Regions from separate parts of the Homo sapiens genome. Here regions 1, 2, 3, 5 and 6 are each linked to region 4. The links come from fine-mapping of genetic effects on gene expression. A gene starts in region 4. Each other region holds a variant in brackets. All regions are shown on one strand. Distances are from middle to middle.

Region 1 (5,051 bases), 43 kb before region 4:
TACATTCAGTCTGGCAAAAGTAGATGAAAGCTGCTATGAAGGCAGCATTGTTTGAGAATATTAAATTCCATTTCAGCAATGCTTAACACTGAATTCCTCATGACAGCAGATAATACATAGTTGGTTCAAGAATATCAACTTTTATTATTATGTAACTAAGCTGTTTCATCAGTCAATAATTTTCAAATATTAATGAAGGGAGAACTCCAAAATAATTCAGAAAGTCAGCAATACCCAGCTTTATCAGCAAAAGATAAACAACTCATTTCAGCACATAAAAATTATGAAAACAGAATGGAAATCCTCAAAAGGATAACTCTCCTCATCAGAGTTTAGAGACTTAGGCATTTGTTCTTATCAGGTTTATCTGTAGCGGGAGGAGATGCTGCCCAGGAGCCTGTAACAATCTAGAAACATTTTTGTCACCAGAAAAATGCACACAGAATTTTACATAAAAAATTCAAAGGACTCGCAGGCACCCTGACACTTGTTAATAAACCTAAGGTTAGTAATCTGAAGGTGGAATTCTCATCCTTGAGGATGATACAGTACCTTTAATTTACAAAAATTCATCTATTCAGCATTCAATAGCCTAATTCTAAATCAGTAGGTAGAGAAAAACCTCCCTTTAACTCAGTCCAAATGTCACTTTTCAGAGCAACCCAATGGTTTTAGTACCAGCAGAAAAATGACGTATCCTTAGGAAAATAATCTTAAACTTTAAAATAAAGGATTAGTGCTGTAAAATAACTGATACACATCCTCTTTTACAGACATGCACTTCCTGAACAACCTGGGGCACGACTGCGTGTGAGCACTATATTCTGAATCCACAACTGCTGCAGTCGGGCCTGAGGAGGAACGGAGCAGAATGCCTCTTACCTGCAGCAAAGGCCGAGCACATGACAAAGAACATGCCCACGGCGATCCTCTTCAGGGAGGATGGGAGCAGGCCATGTCTTCTCAAAATGGGATCGACCAGTTTGTCCTTCAGAGGGATGAGCAGGAGGATGAGCACAGCATCAAACATGGTCAGCCAGGCTGCAGGGAGCTGGGGTGAAACACAGGAGGAGGCGTTTACTCCCCGCAATACAGGCCATCACCTGTCTAGAGAACCAACGTCTCAATGGGAGAAATGCACGTAAAGAACAGTTCCTCTCCACAAGGTACAACCTCTTCAGTTTAGAGACAACGGAACTGGGAAAAGATTTCTTTCCAAATGAATCTGCATTTGCTTTTCTGTGTTTTGAGGGGAAAATAATCAGGTGAAAAATACTAAGTAATGTTGAATTGATGTTAGTCAACCTAATCTAGCAAATGATACAACCAATGAAAAAATATTCTCTAAAATAAGTAAAAACTCTATTTCAATAACAATGCTTTTGTGTCGGTGCTGTTAACATTTATAAAAGATTTACAGTTGGTAGAAGGAATCCATTTATTACATAAGTCCAAAATAACAATGTTCAGATCATTACAATTGTTCTTACCGTGTGAGGAGTGGTTGTAATATTTGAAATTTCTGGAATCCTCAAATGAAGACTCTGTAAAACATATGTTGTCTGCATCTAGGTATAAAAAACAGTATCATTATATGTGGACCAACTGTGCTCTCAAACACTCTAAGCATCCTGCCCCTCCCCTAAGCTAGACTCAGATGCGACACACAGTGACTCCCAGAAATAGACAATGGCTCAAGTTTGAAAACAGACAGGTCAATGATTTGGTCATCGTAAAGTCCTCTGGAGATCAATTTTGAAAAAGAATGGCCAGTTATCCAAAGGAGAAATTACATTAACAAGAGGGGCCTGAAAAACCAGAAGCGTACCTGTTCTCAGCTTCTTTTTCAGAGAGGCTTTAGACATAGTTAAAGCAGCCAAAATGACTCCATAACTAAAACCAAAAATTCCAAGATTCTGTAGACTCATGGGAAAAAAAATCACCTAGTCCTACCTACTTTAGAAATGGCCAAAACAAGTGCTAGGGTAAGACTTCATAGGAAGATAAAGGAAATTAAACCTGTTTGTCACCACTCACTTGGAAATACACTGTCCAGTAAGGTATCAAAGCCAAGAAAACAGGGACAATCTTGACCAGAGCTTTCACATCTTCCACTTTCTCTTCTGTAAATGGCCCACCATGAGACATCTTACATGAATCAAACAGACTTTGTTTAGAAGATTGCTGAAAGACTCCAATGCCTTCACTTTGGGAAATAAAATGAAGGAATTAGTTTTCTTCCCCTCCCAGCAATCAATTATTTGGTCACAAATTAAGTTTGGAGGTAAGAAACCAGCTCACTGTATTGAATCTGCTTCAACTCATTCCATCACTTACTAATTGTACACACCCAACACAGCTACCTAAATTATTTCTAAATGTCACAGAATGTACTGAAACAGCTGACAAAGGGACTTTCTAGTCAAAGTGAAACTGGGCTACTGTAATTTTGGCGTGGCTGGAAGATCTGTGATGACAGTGTGAACCACGGCTGAGCTGAGAGCCCCAGCGCAGCTGCCAGCTCGGCAATCTCCGTGTGGGGAGAGTCTGCAGCTCTACGTGACACTGGGAGGGACACTAGCTATGCCACTGGATAGCATATGAAAAAATGCACTGGATTGTGTGAATTTTTAATCAGCTAATTTATCAAACATCAAGACCTGACAGCCAATACCCATGCTGTTAATAAAACCCTGCTGGTTTAAACTGAGTCACTGGCAGGACTGAGGCAGGCTTCTATTCTCGGAGGAAAGCTGTCAGCTCTTGGATTAAGGAAGAGCTGTTGGGGGAGGGC[G/A]GTGCTGGTGGTGATGAGAGGAGGATGTCCCTGGCTCTGTCCCCTGACAGTAGGAAACAGGGAGTGCCCAGTGCACCGCGTCCCATGTGCTCCCTCATTAACCATGTGGTGTTAAAACTCTTCAGGGCCCTATTGCACAGAGGAAGATGCCGGGGCACAGAGAGTGTGAAGGGTGCCTGAGGTATGGCCAGGACTTGGACCCAGGCAGTCTTGGCTTTACAGCCTGAGGCCCTGACCCCTGCAGGACACCACTGTCCCTCCACTCCCTGCCACTGCCCTCACATCTGCCGGTCACAGCAGGAACATGGACCTGGCATCCCCAGCTCTTGTACTAACGAGTTTCACTTCCTTGCTCTGGGCCTGCTTCATTATTTAGAAAATGAACAGGCCCCACTAGACAGCTCCGCACTCTCTCCCAGCTCCAAAACACTCTAATGGGGAACGGGCTCCAAGGATCTCAGGGGTAAAATGGGAAAACAAAGTGCACACTATTCTCTAAAGCCAGAAGTACCAGGAGAGAGTTAATTCCCAATAAGATTGTGTTTAACTGTGGGAAGCCAACAGAAATGGCACCTGTCAGCCTTCTAGTTTATTAACTCATGTCCCATTTTACTATGGTGCCAGTATTTTAAATTCTTTATCTTATAAAGTCAACATTTTAAGTCTGGACATTCAGAGTGGGGAAAAATAGAAGCGCTGAAAACTATAACTGAATATTTTAGCCAAATTTTGGACAAGAAAACTAAGTTCGATTCAACAAATACTGATCGAGTACCTGCTGTAGGCCCTGCATTGCTCTACCTGGGGGCTAAAGGGGAGGGCTCCTGTCCTTACGGACTTAGTCTAGTGGGGGAAAATAATCAAAAACAAAAACACCCAAAAGTGAAAATAAATTCCAAAGACATTATAAATACTTTCACTCGAAAACATTAACTTCTTCAAGTACTACTTTTTTTCAAAAAGGAAATTAAAGTCCTTTTGTACCTAATGCAGATACTATCAGTGGTTTACCACATCATATTAAATACCTTTCACTAAAAACATTTAAATAACAAATAAACCCATTTTCACACAAAGAATCATTCACACAGGTTACTGGTTATATTACTTTCGCTTTATGTAATTAAAATATTTAAAAGCTGTGAAATCAACATGCATCTGAAGCTTTACTGGGTTACACATATTGTTAGGTGCACTATTTTGCAACATACAAGGGTCCAACACGAAGCCACGGTCACAAGTGACACCCGAACACCCACAAGAGCCCTCTGCTCCTCCCACACAAGTTGACGAGCTCCAGTTTCAGGACGCCTGTGCCTGAGTCTCTGTGAAGGCCGCATGTAGGTGTGTGTATTCTCCAGGAAAAGAGTCCACTGGTTCTCACGGATTCCCAAAGAAGTATGTATCTCAAAAAGCTGTAGAACCATTTCTACTCTGGTCTGATGAGTTGAACAAATACGCCTTCATTTCTCATTTAATATCAAGCACTATATTATCTTCAAAACACAGATCAACCTGGATTGAAACTGAGATTGGGCCAGATGAAATTAAGTGTCACAACTGTAAAAATGTTGGGTATGTCATGCTTCCTCAGGCTTTGGAGGCCCAACTTTTTTTTTTTATTTTATTTTTTCGTTTTTGAGACGGAGTCTCGCTACCTTCCAGGCTGGAGTGCAGTGGTGTGATCGCGGCTCACTGCAAGCTCCGCCTCCCGGGTTCACGCCATTCTCCTGCCTCAGCCCCCCATGTAACTGGCACTACAGGCACCCGCCACCACGCCCGGCTAATTTTTTGTATTTTTAGTAGACGGGGTTTCACGTATTCGCCAGGATGGTCTCGATCTCCTGACCTCGTGATCCGCCCGCCTCGGCCTCCCAAAGTGCTGGGATTACGGGCTTGAGCCACCACGCCCAGCCTGGAGGCCCACCTTTTTTAAGGCACCCTCGTCACAGTGGTCACCACTGACAGGGCCCTTATCATGTACCTGGCATCCTGCTGAGGGCCTTGCACACATCACTGTGCTCAGGCCCCACCGTGAGCCCATGAGATGAATCCATCTCCGCTGTAAAAAAAGGAAAGCTGGGCTTCGCAAGATCAGTAACCTGCCCAAGGTTACAGAGCCAGTTCATACAAACAGCAGAATCTGAGAATTCCTCAGACCATCAACTTTTCTGCAAGCTAGCCCCTGCTTTTTTTTCCCTTATTTTTGCCCAAGAAGACTTTCAAAGACTATCCTAAGAGGAAATCGGCTTCCTAA
Region 2 (5,051 bases), 34 kb before region 4:
CCTCAAAAAGAGATTTGTTTGAAGTCCAAATGATTAAGCATGGCCACTATGGTGGCAGGTAATTAATTATATATAGTAACACCACTTCAAACGAAAAATCTAAATTTAAAAGAAAATCACTTATTCTCAAGAGTTTAAACTTTTCTCTTATCTATTACAATACTGAACAGAGGTCCTAGACCAAATGCAGACATCTCTACTGAATAAAGAGTTTGAGGTGAGAACTTCACAGACATCTAAGACACTTCTTCACTAGGACACAATGCATTTAAATATTGCTCAACAGTGGACACCAATTCTCATGCTATACTAGACATGGACCAGGAAGAAAAATGAAAAATGTGAGCAGAGAAATGGTTACTGAGAAAACAAAACTAGAAGTGCGAAAAAATAACAAACAAAAAGTAATTTTTTGACAAGCATAAAAGAGGCCAGTAAACATAGTATATAAACTTAATAGAGGCACAAATGATTTCCTAACTGAAATGTACTCGGACCTTCCCATTACCCACAGTGACACTGCACACACCTTCCCACGGTCTCACTCGGGCCTTCCCGTTACCCACAGTGACACTGCACATATCTTCCCACAGTCTCAGACTTATGTCCTCTTCAGATGAAGCATGAAAATATCAGCATTTGATTACTCTGGGAAAATCCTAACCTTAAAATGCCATTCATCCTCATTTCCTGTGTAATTGTGGTGGTCAATTTATTCCAACTCCAAGAGTAATCCATCAAAATTACTTTATAAGCCAAAATTACTAAGCCCTAAATAACCACACAGCAGGCATTTCTGTACCAAGGGAACCTGGCTGCTGTGAAGGGACATCACATGCTTCCCAGCCCCTGGCGAGCAGGCCACAACCTCCTGCCCATCGTTTGCATGACATCACTGTGTGAGCTGCAGCTACGTGCCCTACCAAGGGTAAACAAGGTTTTCACATGACTGGCCAAAAGATACCACCAAAATCAATTTGGAGAAGAAAAGCTAAAAGAATAGAATTGTGTACAGCATACCAAACAGTTGGCTGACAGAAGAATTCCTTAAAATGGGGTGTCAGTTTTTCCTCTAGAAAAAAAAAAAATGCATCATTTGCTCTTTTCATCTGTAACATAAGATTTTCGTCTTTCAGGTCACTATTTCAAATAATCCATCCACCAAGAACGATTGTGACCTTTGAAAAAGGTGAAACACTGGGGGAAGATACGGCCTGACATGATTTACACGAACATACGTCTCCCTTGGACTCACAGCTCACACATCCTCTTTCAGAAGCCAACTAGGCCTCCTTCTCAAAGCTATGCAGCCTCACCCCATTGTCTCTCCTATCAGAATGTTTCCCAGAGGCTCTACCTGGGAGATGAAGAGGTAAGTGACAAAGAACCATAAAAAGCACCTTAAAAATACAAACAGGTTTCCTCTAAATGAAAAGGACCAAACCAGGACAAATTAACCCTCGCCTGGGGCACAACAGAGTGTACTTCAGGCCTGCACACCTCAGGGTCCCCAGCCAGGCCTCCTGCCATGAAGCAGCCGCACCTGGAGGGGGACCTGCCACCTGGTCACGGGCAAGCACCCTGGCATAAGGGTACTTTTCCCTTCAAATGTTTTTTCACTATGATTCACATACCATAAAATTCACCCTTCAAAAGTGTACAATTCAGTAGTGTCTAGTATATTCAGAGATGTACAGCCATCACTGCCATCCAAGTCCACATTCTCATCACACCAACAGGAACTCCTGTTCCCTTTAAGTCAGTCCCACGCCCCTCTCCTGGCCCGTGGCAACCCTTAATCTACTTCCAGTCTCTGTGGACTCGCCTCTTCCGGGCATTCCACATCAATGGAATCACACAACTGGGGCCTTATGTGTCTGGCTTCCTTCATGCAGCCGAATGTTTTCAAGGCTCATCAGTACTTCATTTCTTTTTTAATGGCTGAAAAATATGCCATTGTATGGATATACTATATTTAGTTTATACATTCATCAGTGAACATTTTCTTATCTTTCATTTAAAAAAATTCCAAATGTATAGAAAAGTTGAATTGCAAAATGCACAC[C/T]TCTCTACCCTTCACTTGGAGCCTCAGCACTTTTTTCTATACATAAAAAATACTGGCCGAGCGCGGTGGCTCACGCCTGTAATCCCAGAACTTTGGGAGGCCGAGGCAGGTGGATCACCTGAGGTCAGGAGTTCGAGACCAACCTGGCCAACATGGTGAAACCCCGTCTCTATTAAAAATACAAAAATTAGCCAGGCGTGGTGGCTCACACCTGTAGTCCCAGCTACTCAGGAGGCTGAGGCAGGAAAATAGCTTGAACCAGGAGGCAGAGGTTGCAGTGAGCTGAGATCATACCGCTGCACCCCAGCCTGGACAAGAGAATAAGACTTGGTCTTAAAAAAAAATACTTCTGGGTGATCTACATACAAATAAGCTCCAGCAACCAATTTCACCCCCAAAATTTCATCATGAATCTCCTGGAAATAAGGACATTCTTTTAACGGCAGTGAAATTACCACACCTAAGAAAGGCAACATTGGTCCATTATTAGCTAATAGGCGGTCTACAAACTATCCCAAGCATCCAAGAAGAACGGCCATGAAAGCAGCTGGGATCCAATCACTCAGCACGCGCTGCAGGGGGCGGCCAGGTCTCCCGAGTAGCCTTTCATCCACAAGGTCCTCTTTTAACATGACAGCATTACGTCGGAAGAGATCAGGCCAGCTATCTTTCGGAAGAAGGCACATCTCCTTTCAACATCCACATTTAATTATGGATGAAAGAGCGCATATTCTGTCAGATTCATCTGAGATAACCGAGCACCATTTCCTCCTCATTTTAAGAAGTATCAATTACTCGCCTGTTATATCCTGGAGAGCACCAGCTTTTAAGTCAGGCTGCCAGGGCCCCAAACCAGCTCCCCTAGGCACCTGCTGTGCAGCCTTGGGAGCTAACCCTCTAGGCCTCTGTTCCCTGGACAACAGGCTTAACTGCAGCACACACACCAGCAACTGTGGCGAGGCTTAAATAAGATCACGTGGGAAAGGCACAAGTAAGAGGCATAATAGAAGCTTTCCAGTACACCTGTGTGGGGTGGCCAAGTCTTTAAAAGATAGAGGCTGACTGTGCTACCAGCCCCGTTCCTTCATGAGCCAATGGCACCCCAAGGCCAAGAGCCTGGGCCTTGAGATCCAGCCCTGCAGAACCATTACGGAACGCACGCACACTGGGCCCATCTTAGTGTGGTAGCTAAAAAAGAACCAGAGCTGGGATAGAAGTCCAGCTTGACCACTCACTACCTACAGGCAGTAAGAAAGTGATCTGTTTTTGTGCCTGTTTCCTCATCAGTAAAGTGGATCTAAGACTCCTGTGAGGTTCAGATTTCGTCACATATGTAAAGCATACGCCACTGTACAAAAAACCCAGTTCCAATTCAGTACATTAGAAACTATCATTTCTAACGTCATTCTAAGGTGTCTCCTGACTGTAACGGATAGCCTTACACAGGCAGAGTGAAAGCTCACATTCAAAGGACAGGCTTTTGAATCCTGGCTCAGTCACATACAAGCTGTGTAACTTTGGGCCAATGATTAAACCTCTCAAGCCTCAGTTTCCTCATCAGTAAAATGGGCACCGTACGTGTCATGTAGACTAAGTAGTCGTGTAGACATGTAGACATGTAGCATACGTGTCATGTGGACTAACCAGATACTGTACTTAGGTACTTAGCAAGCACTGTGCCTGGTGCACAGTAAGCTCTCAGTAAATGTTCCTAAAAAACAGGCACTCACAGATACTTAGGCAAAAGCCTAAGAGTCGCCTTCCCTACTGCTCACATGCCATGGTTTCCATATCTGACCCTCCAAACCTCATGAAGAAATGTGATCCCCAGTGCTTCTCGTGGGGCCTAGTGTTTGGGTCATGGGGACGGATCCCTGAAGAAAGGCTTGGGGCTGTCACAGGAGTGAACTCTCCTATGAGAGAGGTCGTTTACAAGCCTGGCACCTCCCTCCCCTCTCTCACTTCCTCTAGTGCATGTGATCTCTACACAGCTGGCTCCCATTCACAAGGCCCTCAGCAGTGCAGATGCTGGCGCCCTGCTTCTTGTACAGCCTGCAGAACCCTAAACCAAAGAAACATCTTTCCATTATAGATGACTGAGCCTCAGGTATTCCTACATAGGAACACAAACAGGGAGACAACCTGCCAGTACTTCCTGCCCATTCTACTTCCATAGCTGAACTCCATCCATCCACTTCACCCACCTCCACTGCCTCCACTCTAGTTAGGAGAGACTCCCACCTCATGTCCCTAATGTCACCACTTCCTACACAACCCATTCTCTACAAGCATCCGCACACTTCTGTGAAGGGGCAGGCAGTTCACATTTTGAGTTCTATGAGACATCTCGTCTCCATCACAGTTACTCAATTCTGCCACTGCTTAGTGAAAGCAGCCCCAGTGTAGTGGCTGTGTTGCAGAAACAGGTGGGGCTATGTTCCAATAACGCTTTATTTATGGAGATTGAAATTTGATTTTCATAAAATTTTCACTGGTCACAAATGATCCCGTTTCCGACCACTTAAAAATGTAAGAACTAGCTGGGCGCCGTGGCTCATGCCTGTAACCCCAGCACTTTGGGAGGCCGAGGCAGGCAGATCACAAGGTCAAGAGATCAAGACCATCCTGGCCAACACGGTGAAACCCCGTCTCTACTAGAAATACAAAAGTTAGCTGGGCACAGTGGCGTGCACGTGTAGTCTCAACTACTCAGGAGGCCGAGGCAGGAGAATCGCTTGAACTCAGGAGGTGAAGGTTGCAGTGAGCTGAGATCGCGCCACTGCACTCCAACCTGGCAACAGAGCGAGACTCCGCCTCAAAAAAAAAAAAAAAAAAGAAAGAAAGAAAATATTAAGAACCATTCTTAGCTTGTGAATCCTCAGAAAATAAGAAGCAGACCTGACCTGCTACCCCAGCTGTAGTGCCTGCTCTGCACAAATCACTCCCTGCTGGAACCCAGTAAAGCTCTCGACTGTATCCCCAACGC
Region 3 (5,051 bases), 94 kb after region 4:
GCCGCGCTGGCACCAGGGCTTTGGCCTGGCCCGTGCTGGCCGGCTGGCAGCGCCACTAGCAGGCGGCGACCGCTGACATTTATCTTTGTCTCTTTTCAGGTCGATCCAGTGTTTACAAGGGAAGTGAAAGCCAAAGTGAAAAGGTAAGAGTTGGTGGAGACCAGTCATTTTGCAGAACGGGAAGCCTGAGTGGCCCCTGGGTTACCTGAACTCACATTTATCCAGTCCCAGGCACTATTCCAAGCAGTTTCCAACTGTTTCCTCATGCATCTTCCCGGCGAGCCCGTGGCATCCTAGGCACTATTATTTGCCCAGGGAAAGGCCAATAAAAATCACTTTGTGATTATAATTTTTAATGGATCACATTGGCCAGAATGGAAAGATTTAAACTCTCAAGGATTTGGAAGAATGGAGGGGTATTGCCCTTTGTCACAGCCTGCCTGGAGGGCAATTTGTTGGTGTGTTGGTTATAAGTTGCATTTGTCGGCCAGGAACCCAACAGCACAGGCTTGAACAGATTGAACTTTCATTGCTCACATCAACAAGTCTGAGGGTGGTCATTCAAGGAGCAAAACGGAGGCTTCCCTGAGACCTCAGGGATTTGGCTCCTGTCTCTGTCCTGACTTCCTCAGCCTGTGGCTCCCATCCTGAAGGTGACATGGTAGCTATAGAGCTGTGTCATCAGTCTGCATTTTAAGTGGGGTGATGGGAATGAGCAGACCAGAAGGATGTGGGTCTTATTTGGGTCAGCCCCCTGTAAAGTGGTGTCTTCACAGCCCCCCAGGATTCCAGCCAGACTCATTGGCCACACCAACCACAAAGGGCACTGACAAAGACTGTTTTTTCCCCATCTATAATCAGGGATCTTTAGATTGCTCCTAGGTGCAGACGCGTGTGTGCAAAAGTATCACCTGCTCGGGGAAGGGAGGCCTGGCAGAGCCATGAGAGTGGTGGCCAGCGGTGGGGACGGGGAAGATCGAAGAAAGGCGAAGATTTACATTGTCTGGTGAAAAAAATAGAACAAGGCAAAATGTCTATGACAAAATAGCTGTCAGCGCTGTGTGCTGGGAACAGGGCTTTTGTGACATTATCGTCTCTAGTATTTCTATTTCCATTCTTTTTTGTTGTTGTTGTTGTTGAGACAGAGTTTCGCTCTGTCGCTCAGGCTGGAGTGCAGTGGCGTGATCTCAGCTCACTGCAAGCTCCACCTCCTGGGTTCACGCCATTCTCCTGCCTCAGCCTCCTGAGTAGCTGGGACTACAGGCACCCGCCGCTGCGCCCGGCTAATCTTTTGTATTTTTAATAGAGACAGGGTTTCACCATGGTCTCGATCTCCTGACCTCGTGATCACCCGCTTTGGCCTCCTAAAGTGCTGGGATTACAGGCGTGAGCCACTGCGCCCGGCCTCCTTTTTTTTTTTTTTTTTTTTTTTTTTTTTTTGAGACCTAGTCTTGCTCTGTCATCCAGGCTGGAGTGCAATGGCACAATCTCAGCTCACTGCAATCTCCGCCTCCCGGGTTCGAGCAATTCTCCTGCCTCAGCCTCCCAAGTAGCTGGGATTACAGGTGCGCACCACCACGCCTGGCTAATATTTGTATTTTTAGTAGAGACGGGGTTTCGCCATGTTCGCCAGGCTGGTCTCCAACTTCTGATCTCAGGTGATCTGCCCGCCTCAGCCTCCCAAAATGCTGGGATTACAGGTGTGAGCCACTGCACCCGGCCTATTTCTATTATTTCTATTCTTATTGTCTCATTAGTATTTTAAAGAATTATTTGAAAAAAAGTTGAATTATTAGAAAAATGTTCTCTAAATCATGCAGAGAAAATGGCATGAACCTTGTCTCTGACTCTTCTAGTCCTTGAGAGCAGGTGTCTTTATGGAGCATATGGAAAACAAAAGCAGACATGTTAAGCAACTCCCTCCCTCCCTTGTCAGGGACATGAGCTGTAAGGATTTCCACCCCAGTATAGTTCTCCTGGCTGAACGCTTGGTCAACAATGCTTACTTGCTGATCTAGAGTATTACACCCAAATTGTCATCTCTCCTCCTCCCAGCTGCCTACCCATGAGATTCTTGGAATCAGAGCCACTCTTCCTGCTTTGTGTTTCAGAGCCGCTGGGGTACGATTGATTGGAGAGATGCCTCAAGAAGATCTGCACGCGGTGGTGAAGAATTGCTTCGCGGTGGTGAATAGCTCTGTCTCTGAAGGCATGTCAGCTGCAATTTTGGAGGTAATTATGTAACTCGAGTACTGAAAGTGGGAGTGTGAAATTGTCCATCACTCCTTCTCCTATTTACGGAGGTGACGTCTTTGTCAATAACATTCTGCACTTCTCAAAGCTAAAAAGGCCAAGCAGCATACCTGTTGGAGTTCAAAAGTACTTTTGAAGTTCTATCTGGGAGTTTAAAAATATCATTTCATTTCTCATTGCTATCTCTCCTAGCCAGCTACGATGTAAAATAAAACTGGGATAGCATTGCCTCTCTGACCTTCTAAATATCTCTGACAGGAAGGCAGCTAAGGTTACAAAAGATTGAGACAGGAAACAGATTGAAGGTATTTTTGCAGGAAGCCTCCCTTTACTTGATCTTTTCTCTTTCTTTTCCATATGTTCTGTAATTCCAGAATTTAAGGGAGGGGAAGAAAGGGCTGGACTTTGCAGGTGGCAGGAGACAGGGGCAGGGTAGTGTTCGTAGATGACGGGGTGGCGTGGGGGCCAGGGTGGATCTGATCTCTTCATCTAGCAGTCAGCTCTATAAAATCGCTTCATCTTTTTTGACAAAATGTGTCTATCCCAGCACCACTCTGCAATTCCCCACCAGCATATCTGTGTTTTCAGGACCGAGGCTGGAGTGGGAAGGCCGTGCTCGTGAAACCCAGGCAGGCCCTGGCTGGGCTGTGTCCCCTCTTCTGTAAAAGATCCTGGCAATCCTCGCATTCC[C/G]TTTGCAATGGGACCACCTACATCTCTTCTCCTCCTTGAGAGGTTTTTGACTGGGGTATTTAACCATTATCTTCGGTGCTTGATATTAGGTCCTAGAGAGAATCACCAGCATGTGTCTCACAGAAAAAGATGTTCCTTCTCTTGTTTCGTTGTTAGTTCATTGCCCTGGGGGCTCCTGAAGAATGAACCCAGAAAAGGGCAGGCTGGGCTCACTCACACCAACGCCAGCCTTTAGCACTGGGTTTTCCTCATGCGATTAAAGCACCCAGGACCACAAGCCTGATTCCCTTGGTGGTTCTCAGCACACACACTGCACACGACAGACATGGCGTAAACAAGCATTGATGGGCACGTGATAAAGCCTGTTTTCCTGTCGAAAGGAAACATGTGGCCACTGCTTCCTGAGGTCTTTGATCCAGGTTTCATGTGTTCTTTCTGAATACGTAGATTTCTTATGTCAGTGTCTACTTAGGTTCACGCTGTTACTTTATCATAAGTCTTTGGGATATCCATGTATCCCCTTGGATACCAGGTGAATGTACTGAACTTACTGACAAAAGTTAAGATCTGCAAACCTTTGGGGTCCAGAGAGAACATGGTAAATAAACTAGGAAAAAAATCCTCTCCTTACATTTAAGAAATGACTGACGTTGTATGCATAATATTTGCTCTTAATTTGGCATCATTTATAAAAGAAAAAAAAGACCCCAAAGAAAAAAACACAGAGGGAGATGGCAGAAGCTGTGTGTCCGTGCCCATGAATCTGCTGTTAGGTGCTTTCAGAGCACAAAGTGTGAGTTTGTAACGTGATCATCCTCAGCCAGATGTCAGCACCTCTGCTTAGGGGTTGTCACTAGTATTAATCTCCATTGTCCTTTCAAATTACCTCCCAACTGCAGTCCTCGGGGCAATACATTTTATTCGTCATGTAGGCTTTAAAAGTGTATATGCTTATGGTACCAGTATTTGAACTATTGTGAACTGCTCCTTTGTAGGTAAATATACATTTTTTTTCAACTTCTTAAGGAAAGGTAGAGTGAAATTCGGGAATGATTTTATAACTAGCACACACAGCACTTCACTGCGGATGAATCGCTGTCAAACCTCATTTACTTCAAAGCAAAGGCAGCTGTTAGCAACTCTGACTGCCTTAAAATCTTGATGTTGTGTTCCTTTTGAAAACTCCAAAATAACCTTTGGGCGAAGTGTTTTGAATGAAACTGATTTTAGAGGAGTGGTAAGGGTGCATTTCATTAGAATTCAATTCAGATAGCCACAGTGTTTAATCATGGAATAAGTGCCTATCACTTTTGAAGGAAGTGACCTTTTGACCTTTCAGAATTAGCTGTATTTTCCCATGGAAGCATAGAAACGTCCCATTTGCAGAAACACGTTTCTTACTGATAAACTCCAAAAATCAAACTTTAGCTGGATTCGTGGGCAGCGGGGTGAACAATTCTACAACTAATCAGTTGTTTCCACTTTTGAGCTTTTTGACGGAGTTGAATCCTGCAGAGAATTACATTAAAAGTATATAAACAGTTATTTGCTTATCCCAGCCATCATGATTAGGCTCACACACACACGCACACACACAGGCACACACACACACGCTCACACACATGCACCTACAGATGCATGCATGCACACACATGTACACACGCACATGCACACGCACGTACACACACGTGTACGCACACACACACGCTCTGCCTGAGAGAGAGGAAGCCCATCTTCTAAAGCAGAGACGAGCACCTGCAGGAAGGAGGGGATTCCTGGCCTCTTGGCTTCCAGACTCCAGCCCTAGTGATTGAAGTGGGATGTGAAGGCATTCAAAGGCAGCTGCGACTCTGTGTCACTTTAACCTTGACTAGTTTCTGAGTGTGTGTGTGTGTCTGTAAGTGTTTGTAAGTGTGTGTGTGGATACGGCAGTGCGAGGCCTTTCCCACTTTGAAAAGCGAAGGGCCTTTTGAGTTTTCATCATTAGGAAGATGCTACTGGCATGTATTTGGGATGGAGCAGCTGCAGGGAGGTGGGGTGCCGGTTCAAGGTGCCAGAATATAGCTAATTCTGAAAGGTCAAAAGATCACTTCCTTCAAAAGTGATAG
Region 4 (5,051 bases):
TTCAAATTTTTTCTAAACACAAGAATACAGATCGAGGTTATCAAGGAATTGAAGTGAGCCTTCAAGCACTGTGTGAAATGGCACATTCAGATTTCATCTTAAGCAGGCAGCTGCTTCCCAGCTTCAGTCAGCCACAGGATGGTGGCTTCATTTAATCAGATCTCTCATTTTTTAACAGATATCAGAAATTCCAACTTCTATATGAAAGCTCCCAATTAAAAAATGGTGGCTTGGCCAGGTATAGTGGCTCACGCCTGTAATTCCAGTACTCTGGGAGGCTGAGGTGAGTTGACTGCTTGAGCCCAGGAGCTCAAGACCAGCCTGGACAACATAGTGAGACCCCACTTCTACAAAAAATACAAAAAATTAGCCCAGCATGGTGGTGCACATCTATGGTTCCAGCTACTTTTTTGGAAGGCTGAGATGGGAGGATCACTTGAGCCCAGGAGGTGGAAGCTGGAGTGATCCATAATCACACCACGGCACCCCCAGCCTGGATGACAGAGTGACACTGTCTCAAAACAAACAAAAAATAATAGCTCAGCTTTTATGAAAAACACGGTGTAGCCTAAATACATCTAAGGATGATATTGAGCCCACAAGGCTGCCAGTTCAACTCTCCTTAGGGAGGTTCCTTTCTGGGCTCATGCTGAAGTCGCCTTTGTAAAATCAGAAATGTATCTGTTCACATTTAGCTTTTAATATCCCATGGGCAAGGTGAAATAGGGGAAGATCATGGGCAAGTGCCCCCCTCTACTTCTGTATACCACACCAGACACTGCGTTTTATTGCCTCTTCTTGGTGTGTAGCAAATATATCAGGAGTCCACTCAAAACTTATTTATTTATTTAACACTGAGTCTTGCTTTACTGCCTAGGCTGGAGCGCAGTGGCATGATCGCGGCTCACTGCAACCTCCGCCTCCTGGGTTCAAATGATTCTCATGCCTCAGCCTCCCAAGTACCTAGGACTACAGGCTTGTACCACCATGCCCATCTATTTTTCTATTTTTGGTAGAGACGGGGTTTTGCCATGTTGGCCAGACTGGTCTTGAACTCCTGGCCTCAAGTGATCCACCCACCTCGGCCTCCCAAAGTGCTGGAATTATAGGAGTCAGCCGCCGTGCCCGGGGTCAAAACTCTTTTTCTAAAATGTCGTTAGAAGGGGGTTGTGACAGCTCTGTGCAACTTGTCCCCTTTCCTGTTTGCTTATGTAATTCTGTTGGAAAGTATTAAGTTGTTTAGCAGAATGATAATATTTTCAGATCGCTTTTGTCCTTTAAAAAGGATGTGGCCTGCCTGCCTGGTGCCTGGGAAGCTGAAATACCAGGAAGAAGAGCAAAATCCTGGGTGTTTTTTTGAGAGTGAGAGGAGGACAGGATTTTGATTGTTCTACAATGATATACAACTCTTCCCTACTCCATGCCACACTGAGAGGCAGAGTGGTGGACGTACCTGGGAGAAGCCTGCGGAGCCGAATGTGCCCTCCAGGATGGACTTTTATATCTTGATAAGCCTGGGGGTCACCATGCTGCGTAGGGAGGCCGGAGACCTGCCACTGACGGTGGTTATCCCATGTCATGGCTTTCTTCATTCCCACTTTACCTTTTTGAGGCTGGAAGGTATTTAGGGGATGACAGAAAATCAAGTTTGAAGGTCAATGGAAATATTGGGCACCCACTAGAATGTCCCACATCTGTAAATACATGTGCATCTTTGTAAACACTTAACAGCTGTTTTGGGGAGTGCTTGTTTAAATCCACAGATGGCATTTTGCCAGAGGCCTCCTTCAGTTCCCTATTTCTCTCACTCAAGGTATCCTAGTTTGGAGATCCAGACCAGGTGCAGCCCATGTACCCTGATGAACCCCAGGTTCCCCTCTCCAACATCTTTCTCACCCGACAGGTGCGGCCCTGAAATGGGTTTCTACTGTCTCCTCACACAGTCCCCATGTTCCCCTCCTCGGGTTAGTTTTAGGGTAGTCTAGCCTGGGAAGGAATTTGGGACTGATCATGCCACGTTCCCTGGAATGGGACTAGAAAGGAATCCTGGGCTTCGTGCGGACCAAGGCCCCACTCAGGTTGTCATGGAAAATGAGGCTGAGAGCCCCTCTCTGCAGCACCCTGTGGGACGGAACCCGAGGTCTCTGCTGGTCCCGGTGGGCACAGACCTGCAGCCAACCCGGTGTTCCGTGAAGCCCTGATTTCCCAATGAAGCCCATGGAAGCCATCACTGGTTTCCATGGGAGCGGACCATGGCCACCCCTGCTCCTGTTCCCTGTGGGAAAGGACCAAGGCCGCCCCTGGTCCTGGTCACTGTGGGAAGGGACTGTGGTCACCGCTGGTCCTGGTCCCCTTGGGAGGGACTGTGGTCACCGCTGGTCCTGGTCCCCGTGAGAATGGTCTGTGGTCACCGCTGCCTGTTCCCTGTGGAAGGGAACGTGGTCACTGCTGGTCCTAGTCCTCTTGGGAGGGACTGTGGTCACCGCTGGTCCTGGTCCCCGTGTGAGGGACTGTGGTCACCGATGGTCCTGGTCCCCGTGGAAGGGACTGTGGTCACCGCTGGTCCTGGTCCAGGTGGAAACAGACCGCGGCTACCCTGGTGATGGACCCCACGGGGCACACCCGCGCCACCCCGCACCCAGGGCTCGCGCCGCCCGAGGCCCCCGGTTCCTGTCCCCCTCCCCGCCTGGCGCCGGAACCTGCGAGCTGGGGCGCGGCCTCGGGGAGGGGCGGGCGGGACAGACCCAGCCGCCCCGGCTCCCCCGCCGTCCGCGTCTGCGCCGGCCCCGGGGCCTGGTCGGCGGCGGCGGGGCCGGTCGATGGCCCGGGCGGCGGCGGCGGCATGCGGCTCCTGTTCCTGGCGGTGCTGCGGCCACACACCGGCAACGCGGTCACGGCCCAGCGCGTTCGGTAGGTGCAGGGCGCCGGGGCCTACGAAGCCTGGGCCGGGGGCCGGGGGGCGGGGACGCGGGACCCGGGGACGCGGGGCGCTCAGCCAGGCCCCCTCCAGCCGCGCCGGGGCCGTCCCGAGCCGCGCGCACAAACGGATGGGCCGGTGCCGCCTGCCGGGCGCGCGGGGGTCGGTGCCTTCTGCGTGGCGCGCGTGTCCCCGGGTCTCCGTGCGGCCGGCGCATTGGCCTCGCGCTCTCCGGAGGGGACTGAGCAGGTGAACAGGCCCGGAGCCTGTCGTGGAGGGGCCCGGGAAGGCCTCGCTGCAGAAGCAGGATGGGAGCAGGATCCGCAGGGATGCGCAGCGGGGTCCGCGGAGCTCCCGGCGGGGGCGCGTTTCCAGGCCGGGGACCGCGGTGCCAGCCCTGCCCTCGCGGATCGGGTCTCGGCTGTGTGCCGGCGTCCGGGGTCCTGTCCCCGAAGTCCCTTTCCCACCTCCCCTCTGCCCTGTCTATTCTCGTCTTCCTGGCTGGTTAGCTCCTTCACACTCATCTTTTTCTGCCTTTGTCTTATTTGTTTACTTGTTGGTCTGTGTTCTGGTCGCTGGAACGCAAGCCCGGCGGGGGCCCGGGGAGGGGCCGCCGCGTTAATCCCGCCGCCTCCCACCCGCACAGCGGGCGCTCGGCCTGTATTAGCCGGATAAACATATTCCTTGAGGCGAAGCCTGGGAAGTGCCAGGATTAGAGCCTGCAGCTTAACAGAAGCCGTGTGTGTGTGTGTGTGTGTGTGTGTGTGTGTGTGTGTGTGTGTAAAAGCGGACTTGCTTCATGAAATTTCCCGATTTACTTCCCTTCTGTGGGCCTGTTTCCCCATCAATTTATTTTTTTGAAATGGAGTCTCGCTGTGTCACCCAGGCTGGAGTGCAGTGGCGCAATCTGGGCTCACTGCAACCTCCGCCTCCTGGATTCAAGCATTCTCCTGCCTCAGCCTCCCAAGTAGTTGGGATTACAGGTGTGCACCACCACGCCCGGCTGATTTTTGTATTTTTAATAGAGACAGGGTTTCACCATGTTGGCCAGGTTGGTCTCGAACTCCTGCCCTCAGGTGATCCGCCTGCCTCGGCCTCCCACAGTGCTGGGTTTACAGGTATGAGCCACTGTGCCCGGCCTCCTCATCATTAAAATGAGCAATTGAGACTCCACCAACACTTTCATGTCCCTTTCAGCTAATTTCTCCTAAAGATCATAAGCAGAAATGACCAAGAGAGGATCCATCAGTTTTCTGAAATTTGCTGGAAAATTTACACTCAGGTTTCATGGTGCAGGTTTCTATTAAATAGGTCAGTGATGCTCTGCTTGGGTTTAGCAGTGAGGAGCCCTTTGTGTTCCTGGCTCTGTTGGATGAACCAGCATCCCAGTATGGGAGAGGAATGAAGGAGGTGATTTCACATAGGGATTAGTGCTATTAAGAAAGCAAAACTAGGAGGCTGAGGCAGGAGAATCGCTTGAACCTGGGAGGCAGCTGTTGCAGTGAGCCAATTGATCTGGGATCACGCCACTGCACTCTAGCCTGGGTGACAGAGCCAGACTCCATCTAAAAAAAAAAAAAAAAAAAACAACAACAACAACAAAAAAAACAAAAAACCTAGGGCAGGCTTTCATGGCGGCTCAAGCCTGTAATCCCAGCACTTTGGGAGGCTGAGATGGGAGGATTGCTTGAGCCCAGGAGTTAAAGACCAGCATGGGCAACATGGTGAAACCCTCATCTCTACAAAAAAAAATTTAAAAATTAGCTGATGTGGTGTGTGCATGCCTGTGGTCCTAGCTACTCAGGAGGCTGAGGCAGGAGGATCAGTTGAGCCCAGGAGGTTGAGGCTGCAGCGAAGTGACATTGCACCACTGAACTCCAGCCTGGGTGGCAGATCAAAACTCTAAAAAATAAAACAAAACTGTTAACGGAAAGAGGTCCTGATCCAGAACCCGATAGAGGGTTCTTGGATCTTGCACAAGCAAGAATTCAGGGCGAGTCCTTAAAGTGAAAGCAAGTTTATTAAGAAAGTAAAAAAATAAAAGACTGGCTACTCCATAGACAGAGCAGCCCCAAGGGCTGCTGGTTGCCTTTTTTTTTTTTTTTTTTTTTTTTGAGACAAAGCTTCATTCTTT
Region 5 (5,051 bases), 52 kb after region 4:
AGAATCGCTTGAACCCAGAAGGTGGAGGTTGCAGTGAGCCGAGATTGTACCATTGCACTCCAGCCAGGGCAAGAAGAGCAAAAATTCTGTCTCAAAAAAAAAAAAAAGAAAGAAAAAAAGAAAAGTTCCCTGATGCAGCTAAACTTTAAGAAATTGCCACTTGCTGAGTTTGGGTGCAGTGTCCAAGAACAATGCCTACAGTGATCGGAAAGGCCATTAAAATACTCTTTCTTTTCCTACTACCTGTCTGCAAGAGGCAGGATTTTCTTTATAGACCTCAACCAAAACAACATATTGCAACAAATTAAATGAAACAGCAAACGTGGGAACCCAACTGTGTTGGTTAAGACAGACATTAAAGAAATAATTGCCAGGCGCAGTGGCTCAACCTGTAATCCCAGCACTTTGGGAGGCTGAGGCGGGCAGATCACCTGAGGTCAAGAGTTCAAGACCAGCCTGGCCAACATGACGAAACCCTGTCTCTACTGAAAATGCAAAAAATTAGCCGGGCATGGTGGTGTGCACCTGTAGTCCCAGCTACTCAGGAGGCTGAGGCAAGAGAATTGCTTGAACCCAGGAGGCCGAGGTTGAAGTGAACAGAGATGGTGCCACTGCAAGACTCCGTCTCAAAAAAAAAAAAAAAGAAAGAAATATTTTACCTGTGGAAGCATGCTCCTTTTCCATGAATTCATTGCCCTTTTCTCTAACTTGTCAGCCTTCAATATCATCCTCCACCATAAATCCTTCCTTGACCCTCCAGAATTGGCATAGATGAGTTCCCTTCCTCTGTCAGTTACCTTTTGCTGCTTAACAAACCAGTTGCCTTAAACACGCAGGGTGGCCTCACTTCCATGCCTGGACCTTAGCTGGGATGGTGGGGACCCCTGAGGCCTGTCTCCATGGGGTCTGTCATCCTGTTTTAGGCTCGGCAGGAAGAGAGAACGGGCCTCAACTCACAAGCACATTCCAGGCCTCTGCCTGTGATAAGCTTGCCTCCTTCCCATTGACCAAAGCAACTCAGCGGGTGGAGATACGGTCCCCACCTCATAATGAGAGGATCTTTAATGCTGCCTTACAAGGGCACGGATGCAGGGAGGGGGAGAATTGATGGCCTCTGTAACCATCTGCCACACTTCATGCTTGTCTCTAATGAGTATAACATGTTTTACTTTCTTCCCCGTGCTTCTCAAGTGGTGAGCTTCTTGAGAAAGGGACATGAGGTAGTCACTCGTGCATCCCTGGAGAATAGTATATACTGTCTCAGGCCCGGTGAATATCCTTTAAATTGATTGATTAGGAACGACTCCTCCTTTAGAACCTTTTGGTTTTTTTAAATATTTTTATTTTTATTTTTTGAGATGGAATCTTGCTCTGTCACCCAAGGTGAAGTACAGTGGCGCAATCTCAGCTCACTGCAACCTCTGCCTCCCAAGTTCAAGCTATTCTCCTGCCTCAGCCTCCTGAGTAGCTGGGATTACAGGCTCCCGCCATCATGCCCAGCTAATTTTTGTATTTTTGGTAGAGACGGGGTTTCACCATGTTGGCCAGGCTGGTCTCGAACTCCTGACCATGTGATCCGCCCGCCTTGGCCTCCCAAAGTGCTGGGATACAGGCATGAGCCACTGTGCCCGGCCAGAACTTTTAATTAAAGAAATTTTCAGGCATGTGTAGAAGTAGCAAGAATAGTAGAGTGAGCCCTTTATGTGCCCATGACCCAGTTTATTGTTCCTCAATTCTTATTTACTCTACTTCCTCCTGAATACACACACACACCTACACTCACACACACACATACAATGTTTTCGAGAATAATTTCAAAAATTACCAATATCATGCCATTTCACCTATAATTATGTGCCATTTTACCTGCAAATGTACTTTGATAAAGACTTTTTTTAAAAAACATAAACACAGTGGTACAGGTAACTTTTGTATTGGCAGACCACAGTCAGTAAGGAAGAAATAAAGAGGGGTTTAAGAGCGTTCATACAACCTAACATTTTTATCAATACAGTTTGGAAGAAATCAAGGAATAGAATTTGGAGGGGGAAAAAGAGAGGAACTGAATCATTTGGTTCTGGATGTATTGACTTAGTGACAAATATTGGACTCGGGTAAATATCCAGAATAGAGCTGAGAATGTAGGACTGTCCTCAGAGGAGGGCACAGTTGGGGACACAGCCATGTGAGTCACTGGTGTCCAGGTGATGGTTAAAGCATGAAAACAGTCTTTTTTTTTTTTTTTTTTTTTTTTTTTTGAGACAGAGTCTTTCTCTGTTGCCCATGCTGGAGTGCAGTAGTGCGATCTCGGCTCACCGCAACCTGCGGCTCCCGGATTCAAGCGATTCTCCTGCCTCAGCTTCCCAAGTAGCTGGGATTACAGATGCCCACCACCACACCCAACTAATTTCTGTATTTTGAATAGAGATGGGGTTTCACCATGTTGGCCAGGCTGGTCTTGAACTCCCAACCTCAGGCGATCCACCTGCCTCGGCCTCCCAAAGTGCTGGGATTACAGG[T/C]GACTGCCACTATGCCTGGCTAATTTTTGTATTTTTAATAGAGACTGGGTTTCACCATGTTGGCCAGGCTGGTCTCGAACTCCTGACCTCAAGTGATCTGCCCACCTCATCCTCCCAAAAGGCTGGGATTACAGGCATGAGCCACCGCGCCTGGCCCATTTCCCACCCTAAACACTCAGCTGTCAGGTATTACACCACTTACGCCGTTTCCCAGAAGCTAAGGGTGCAGGTCATGCCTCTGTTTGGTCAAGGCCGAATTTCCTAGTACACACCCACTATATGTCATCAATATGAAAGTTACTAGTGACATCATATTTTACCTTTTTGTGTGTGAAGTCTTTGAAATCCTGTGTGTATTTTACACTCACAGCACATCTTAATTCAAACAGGGCCTTAGACGTGCCCTGGATCAGCCACGTGGCCACGTGTGGCGAGGGCTGTTGTGTGCTCAGGGCAGCTCTGTTTCAGGATTTCTGAAACTTACTCACACGATATCTGATCCTGGAGGACACATGAACGGACATGTGCCCAGTGAGGGTTAGTTTGTAACCGGTGAGTGAACTTCAGCCCCCAGGGCTGCTCTTGTGGAAATGTTGTCTTGGGAGCTGGGTTTATGATCGCCTACCTATCTCTGGCTGACCTTCACAAGTTAGTTTGATTGGATTTCAGTAAAGACGGTTTTATCTCTTTTAATTTGAAATGCCTTTGTTTATGCTCAAGTCATTATTTTTTAGTGTTGTTTATATCAGCCTTAATTTGACATTGTACCTACTTTGTAAAATATACAATCCTAGTGGGCTCCTCACCAGGTCAGCATGCTAGGCTGTTAATGCCTAGCACGCGTGATCAACGTAGGTTATGTTTTGGGATGGCATTACTATGTTGGTTTGTGATATTATAATATATCTTTTAAGTGTTTTTTTTTTTTCTTTATTAAAGGAGTCTCACTCTGTTGCCCAGGCTGGATGGAGTGCAGTGGCGTGATCGTGGCTCACTGCAGCCTCAAACTCGTGGGCTCAGACGATCCTCTCCCCCTCAGCCTCCTGGGTAGCTGGGACTACAGGCCCATGCCACCACACCTGGCTGAAATTTTGACTTTTTTTTTTTTGTGGAGATAAGGTCTCACTGCGTTGCCCAGGCTACTCTTGAACTCCTGGCCTCAAGTAGTTCTCCTGCATCAACCTCCTAAAATGCTAGAATTACAGGCGTGAGCGTCTGTGCTGGCCAGTTTCTGATATTATAATATTGATTTGACATTTTCAAGAATTTGATTCATTTCACATTTCTGATCCTGAAATATATGTTGTGGGAAGTTTGAAAATATTTTATGTAGGATTTTGATTTCTTGCTACAATATGTAATAGATATTCAGGATGCAAACTTGAGTACTTCTAGTTCTAGTCCACGTTTAGAGCGCTTTGTCTAAATTCATCAGAATTTCACCAGAAAATGTAAAAATTTCACCAAGAAGAAAAAAACACCCACGAACAAATTAAATGTGTATCTTAATGGACGCTTCTACCAGGAGAAGCAATGGTTATGGTTTAATATGTCTCCATTGGGCTCAAAACCCCTCATGCCTGTTTTCACACTCTTTTCCTAATAAGCATTCTTCTAAGAGGACATTATCTAAACTCAAATATTTATTTATGAGCTATATTTAAAAAATCCTGTTTGAGTAAATATTGCTTGAAGCAGTTATCAAATTCAAACAAAAAAAAGCACAGTGTCATTCATAATGGCCCATCAATATGCTTTGCAAAGGCTAAGTTTTCAGGTGTTATCTTTAGAGTGAGGTTTTTCTTTTTTTTTTTTTCTTTTTTTTTTCTGGAAACTTTGAGTCACCCCCTTCTGGGGCCTAATTTATCTACTTTGCCTTGGCACTTGTGAAAGAAAAGTAACTTCTTCAAGTTGCTGTGTTAGGCAAAACCTAAAGTGTAATTTTACTTTGTGTACATTTACTCATCAAAATTCTTTTGGAAATTAAAATATAGAAAGCAAGACAGATCTCATTGGCTGTCACAAGTGCAGTTCCTGTACAGGTGAGCTCCACAAGTCAGTGCAGATGTTAGCGCTGGCCTAATCGGAATGAGCTGCGTGTCTCCTTATCCCTAAAGTCTGCAGTAGAAGCATGCTGTCTTTTGAGCTACTTATTACTTCTCCCTCTTCCTGCATGGCCCCATTGCTTTATGTCTGATTACCTCGGAAAGTCATCTTGGCAGCAGCTGAAACTACACAGACCATACCTTTTATTAGAGTTCCCACCCTCCTGGAAACATAAAAATGCATTGAACACGTGGGTTTCACCTCTAGACTACCTCTTTTCTGTGCCAACCCTCTCACCTCTGCAGGAGAAGCTCCAGGGATTGATCATGTCCCAGGAAGCTAATCTTTTTTTTTTTTTTTTTTTTGAGACCGAGTCTCGCTTTGTTGCCCAGGCTGGAGCACAGTGGCGTGATCTCGGCTCACTGCAAGCTCTGCCTCCCGGGTTCACGCCATTCTCCTGCCTCAGCCTCCCGAGTAGCTGGGACT
Region 6 (5,051 bases), 840 kb before region 4:
TCAGATATGCTCTATTTGTATGTATCAACTTTAAAAAATGATGATGTTGAAATAAATAAAAGCTTGAAGCAATGTTAAATAGAAGCTGAATAGTTGAAGAAGACAGTAGAGTCTGTTTCTTGTTTATCTGAGTATTTTCTGGCATATATAACAGATAAAATACTTATTGTTTATCAAATGAATGAATTAATGAATTAATAAATGATATATATCAAAATGCATGCAGAAATCAGATGAAATTAGAGCCAAGTTAGGACTCAAATGAGAAGGAAGTTTATGCTGGCTAAGCAGGAAGGATATAGGCTCTAATCCTGGTTCTGCGACTAAGTTATCACATGACCTTAGAGAATGTCACAGTCTGAGTGTCAGTTAAACCCTCTACAAAATAAGGGACCAGCCTGTGTGACCTGGGAAGCACTGGGCTTTCACTCATGTCGTGATGCTCCAGGGGGTGATAGAGGCATGGACACACACTTAAAATTCTGAGCTGATAATGAGATTCAGGGAACTTTTAATATCTCCATCCCTCTGGCTCCAGCGCGAGCTAGAAGGAAAAGAGATTCAATTGCTCAATTGGATTTTATGGTTCCCACTTCTCAGGGGATTAAGAGAGCATTAATGAGCACCAATTGTGTACAATAGGAATATGGAAACTGTTTCTGTATTTAAGGACAAGGAGGTTAGCAGATTCCGATTGAGTAGGCTATGTAAGTGAATGTGAATGACGCTGGTTCCATGAAGCTAAGACTATTAGTGAGAAAAGTGAATCCTTTTATGCATGTATCCATTAATACAGCTAGAATCTAGCTAACACCCACTTCATCTGGCATTGTGCTGGGCATTGGAAACAAAGAGATGAAGCTGATGGACCTCACACACTGACGTTCTGAGGGAAGAAAGGAGGAAGTACAGAGTAGTCTCTGGTATAAACAACAGGAATTATGGCTGTGCATGGGTTGGGATACAAAGTGCATGTAGCTGTGCCTAATTCAACCTAGCAAAGTGAGGGTGGGAGGGGAGAACATGAAGACCACCACGGAAGATTCTTAGAGGATATGAAGAGCAAGCAGAATCCTGAGCCAGGTTTAGCCTGATGAATAGCTTTAAAATGAGTTGTAGGCCAGCCTCAGTGGCTCTCGCCTGTAATCCTGGCATTTTGGGAGGCCGAGGAGGATGGATCACTTGAGGTCAGGAGGTCGAGACCAGCCTGGCCAACATAGTGAAACCCCGTCTCTACTAAAAATACAAAAATTAGGCTGGCATGGTGGCGGGCACCTATAATCCCTGCTACTAGGGAGGCTGAGGCAGGAGAATCACTGGAACCTGGAAGGCAGAGGTTTCAGTGAACTGAGATCATACCACTGCACTCCAGCCTGGGCAACAGAATGAGACTCCATCTCAATAAAAATGAAAATAAAAATAAAATAAAATAAAATAAGATGTAACTAAAAAGACCCCCAACTGACCAGAGGGGCACATATTCATGCATTTTAGGAGACTGAGTTAAACCAGCATCTTTGCAGCGTTGGCTGGAAGGCTGAGAATGATGAGATATGACCACACGTATCAGGAGGGCTAAGATAAAGGGGTTTCTGGCAGCCTAGTTTTAGGGCTGTTGTTAGAATTAAATTTTGTGTTTTTCTTTTTTTCAGCTTTGTGGACATATAACTGACAAATAAAAATTGTATATTTTCAAGGTGTCCAATGCGATGATTTGGCACATATATATTGAGAAATGATTATCATAATCAAGCTATTAACTCGTGCATCATTTCACACAGTTACATTGCGTGTGTGCGCGCCTATGATGAGAACATTTGATATTTACTCTCAGTAAATTTCAAGGTTGCAACACATTATTAGTAACTATAATCACCATGCTGTACATTAGGTCCACAGAATTTATTCATCTTTACCCTGCAAGAGAAGTAAATTCTAAAATGCAAGTAACATGCTTGGCTTAGCACCTGGAAAAAACATTAGCTGATGCTTGTAATAATGTTGGTCATGACAATGGTAAGACAGAGGTGGGAGAAGGTAAATAACAAGGAGGAAGAAGAAAATGGGAGGATAAAACATAGAAAGTTGTTTTTATAGTTGAGCATAAATAGAAGGGAAATTTATGTCTTGGCCATAGGAGGGAAACACAGCCCAGAATCACCTTTTTACAGTGAACAAATTTGAAAAATATTATTCTTATAATTGGGCAACTTATAGGAAACAAATTTTCTGGAATTGGACAACAGGCAGGGCAAAACTACGATACCTGAAAAAAGAAAAACAAATAAGATGAGATCTATCACTCCCAATTTCTGGACTGCAGGGCAGGGAGGGTCAACCCAAACAGAGCCTCCTGTTCTCACTGAATTGAGGAGAAAGAGATTGGACTTTGGGAAGGCTGATGTTCCTGGGACTTACAGGACAGAACACCTGGAAGGAAGGAGCTGTGCAAAGCAGGAGTT[C/T]CAAAAATGTGCACACAGGCACACTTGAGCCTTCGGCTGATAAAAAATCTCCATATGTATTGGGAAAAAACTCACAGGTTGAATAAAGAAAAACTTCTGGGGAAATTAAAATTGCCAGGGAGCTGTATGATGAAAATGACCAGAGTTCACAAAGGAGCTGTATGATGAAAATGACCAGAGGTCACAAACGGCTGGGAATCGTTTTGTTTATACATAAGGCATTCAGTAGAGAAGAGCCACACCTTAGAAGCAGACCTAAATTAGCTATAGATTAAAGGGTACTTTGGACAAGTCTTAAAAGTGGTTTAAAACAAGACTTAAACATCAAACTGATATAAAAAATAAAGTTCAATGTATTTCATAAGAAATACAGAAAATCTAGCATATGCCCATGCAAAATTTAAGCTGTCTAGCTTTCAATTAAGAAATTACAAGACATATGAAGAAGCAGATAAACATGACCTAAACACAGGAAGGAAATAAGTCAGTAGAAACAGACCCATAAATGATAGAGATGATGGCATCTTCAGATATGAGCATTAAAAGAGTGAACATACTGAGTCTACTCAAGGATTTAATGAAGAATATGAATGTAATGAGAAGAAAAAAGGAATCTGTATTAAACTGCTTTGTACTGCCTCAAAGGGCACTGAAGCTTTGTTTTTTTGTTTTGCCTTTTTTAAAAAAAGACATATTTATCTCTGTGCTTCATTTTGCAACTTTTTCTTTGGATGCACACGTATAATTTTTGATGGCTGAAGAAAAGTAATTTCTTCTTCTGTAGTATCTATATAGCTGTTACCCCCTCCACTGAAATATTTGTGTGGTTATCATATATTTAATTTCTAAATGCAATTGGAGTCCAAAAAAGAGAGAAGTAAGAATCCAAAATAATTGAAGAAATAAGAGCTAAAAAATTCCAAATCTTATGAAAACTGTAAAGCATAGATTCAAAATGATAAATAAACCCATAGCCAAAGAAACATAAAGAAAACTACATTGGGACTCATTATAATAAAATTTCTGAAAACAAGTAATAAAAAGGAATCTTAAAAGTAGCAAAAGGGCCGGGTGCGGTGGCTCACGCCTGTAATCCCAGCACTTTGGGAGGCCAAGGCGGGCGGATCACGAGGTCAGGAGATCGAGACCATCCTGCCTAACACAGTGAAACCCCATCTCTACTAAAAATACAAAAAATTAGCCGGGCGCGCGTGGCGGGCACCTGTAGTCCCAGCTACTCGGGAGGCTGAGGCAGGAGAATGGCGTGAACCCGGGAGGCGGAGCTTGCAGTGATCCGAGATCGCGCCACTGCACTCCAGCCTGGGCAACAGAGCGAGACTCTGTCTCAAAAAAAAAAAAAAAAAAAAAAAAAAAAACAGCAAAAGAAAATCTATGTGTATATAAATTATGTTCTACAGAACATACTTAGGAAATAATTTTCATCAGAAACCACACAGCCCAAAAGAAAAAAGAGTAACATCTTTAAAGTACAGAGCTATAAGGAAATGAAAAATCCCGTCACTTAGAATTGTATATGCACTATAAACCTTTTTCAGAAATAAAGGCCAAAGACTTTTCAGACAAAGGTTAAAGTAATTCATTAGAAGCAGATTGGCAATACCCTAAGGGAAATTCTTTTGGGGAAAAGATCCACTACACACGAGAATAAAAAGTACTGGAAGTAAGTAGGTTGGTAAATATAAATGTAACTATTTTCTAATTTCTAAATTAATGCAAAAGGTAATTGACTTTTTCAAGTATAAATAAGATAAATAAATTAAAGCATTTATAATATTTGTGGAAGCAAAATGTAGCAAGAAATAGCACAAAGGATGAGAGGGGAGGAACAGAAGTATGCCCTTGTACATTTTCAGACACACATGAAATGTCAATATTATTTGAAAGTAGGTTGAGATACGTTACAATGATTATTGTAAATTTTAGGGTGCTCAATTTTCATTTTCCAAGATTGTTTTGGTGCTTTCTATTTCCATATACATTTTAGAATGTGCTTGGCAATTTCTACAAGGAACATCTTCTGAAACTTTAATTGGGATCTCGTCAAATCTACTGATCTATTTGGGGATATTTCATATCTTAATATGGAAGCATGACAGCCTTGAGCATGAAATATTACATAGCTTTGTTGATTCAGTTCTTTAATTTCTCTCAGCAGTATTTTGTACTTTTGAGAGTACAAGTCTTTCACAAATGTCAGATTTATCCTTAAGTATTTAATGATTTTAGATATGTTGTGAATGGTATGGTTTCCTTAATTTCACATTTTAATTTGGAGGATACTTTTTGTAAAGCTATTGTAAGCAACAAAGTACACTATGTGCTTCTGTTTGTGTGTATGTGTATAACTGATGACAGGATAGAGAATATACAAATATAGCCACACGTGTATGCTTTTCATAAGTCTGACAGTGTAACTCAATAGGAAATAAAGTCTTTTCAACAAATGATGGGGGCACAATTGGATATCTGTATACACAAAAATAAAAATCAACCACTACCTCACACAATACTCAAAGATTGACTCAAAACTATTGTACATCTAAAAGTAAAAGTTAAAATCATACAGTT

Evidence for each region. PIP is the estimated chance that this variant, and not a neighbour inherited with it, causes the effect. A credible set is the group of variants that fine-mapping cannot tell apart.
Region 1: its variant is the best candidate, but not a certain one, in a credible set for the expression of GLT1D1 in whole blood (TOPMed, PIP 0.57).
Region 2: its variant is the best candidate, but not a certain one, in a credible set for the expression of GLT1D1 in whole blood (TOPMed, PIP 0.55).
Region 3: its variant is the best candidate, but not a certain one, in a credible set for the expression of GLT1D1 in whole blood (INTERVAL, PIP 0.65).
Region 5: its variant is the best candidate, but not a certain one, in a credible set for the expression of GLT1D1 in liver (GTEx, PIP 0.57).
Region 6: its variant is the best candidate, but not a certain one, in a credible set for the expression of GLT1D1 in nucleus accumbens (GTEx, PIP 0.74).

Annotation. Positions count from the first base shown.
Region 1 is chr12:128,807,906-128,812,956 of GRCh38, forward strand. It overlaps SLC15A4 (solute carrier family 15 member 4), which reads right to left. Exons shown (of 8, transcript NM_145648.4): 3 at 2,038-2,206; 4 at 1,491-1,568; 5 at 883-1,051. Among named protein-coding and RNA genes, the nearest start is that of SLC15A4, 14 kb to the right of the region's middle. RefSeq lists enhancers at 2,897-2,996, 4,231-4,300. The variant G/A (reference allele first, on the strand shown) is at 2,795.
Region 2 is chr12:128,817,003-128,822,053 of GRCh38, forward strand. All of the region lies in intron 1 of SLC15A4 (solute carrier family 15 member 4), which reads right to left. Among named protein-coding and RNA genes, the nearest start is that of SLC15A4, 4.4 kb to the right of the region's middle. RefSeq lists enhancers at 922-1,001, 1,642-1,751, 4,967-5,051. The variant C/T (reference allele first, on the strand shown) is at 2,066.
Region 3 is chr12:128,945,227-128,950,277 of GRCh38, forward strand. GLT1D1 (glycosyltransferase 1 domain containing 1) reads left to right here. Exons shown (of 12, transcript NM_001366886.1): 9 at 100-143; 10 at 2,112-2,232. It also overlaps the pseudogene AK3P6. Among named protein-coding and RNA genes, the nearest start is that of GLT1D1, 94 kb to the left of the region's middle. The variant C/G (reference allele first, on the strand shown) is at 2,944.
Region 4 is chr12:128,850,740-128,855,790 of GRCh38, forward strand. It overlaps GLT1D1 (glycosyltransferase 1 domain containing 1), which reads left to right and starts at 2,739. Exons shown (of 12, transcript NM_001366886.1): 1 at 2,739-2,910. The coding sequence starts at 2,843. LOC100128276 (a long non-coding RNA gene) reads right to left here and starts at 2,356. Exons shown (of 3, transcript NR_148996.1): 1 at 2,337-2,356; 2 at 1,454-1,613. RefSeq lists silencers at 2,718-2,817, 3,008-3,207 and an enhancer at 3,069-3,720.
Region 5 is chr12:128,902,394-128,907,444 of GRCh38, forward strand. All of the region lies in intron 4 of GLT1D1 (glycosyltransferase 1 domain containing 1), which reads left to right. Among named protein-coding and RNA genes, the nearest start is that of GLT1D1, 51 kb to the left of the region's middle. The variant T/C (reference allele first, on the strand shown) is at 2,520.
Region 6 is chr12:128,012,832-128,017,882 of GRCh38, forward strand. No RefSeq gene overlaps it. Among named protein-coding and RNA genes, the nearest start is that of LINC02441, 12 kb to the right of the region's middle. The variant C/T (reference allele first, on the strand shown) is at 2,463.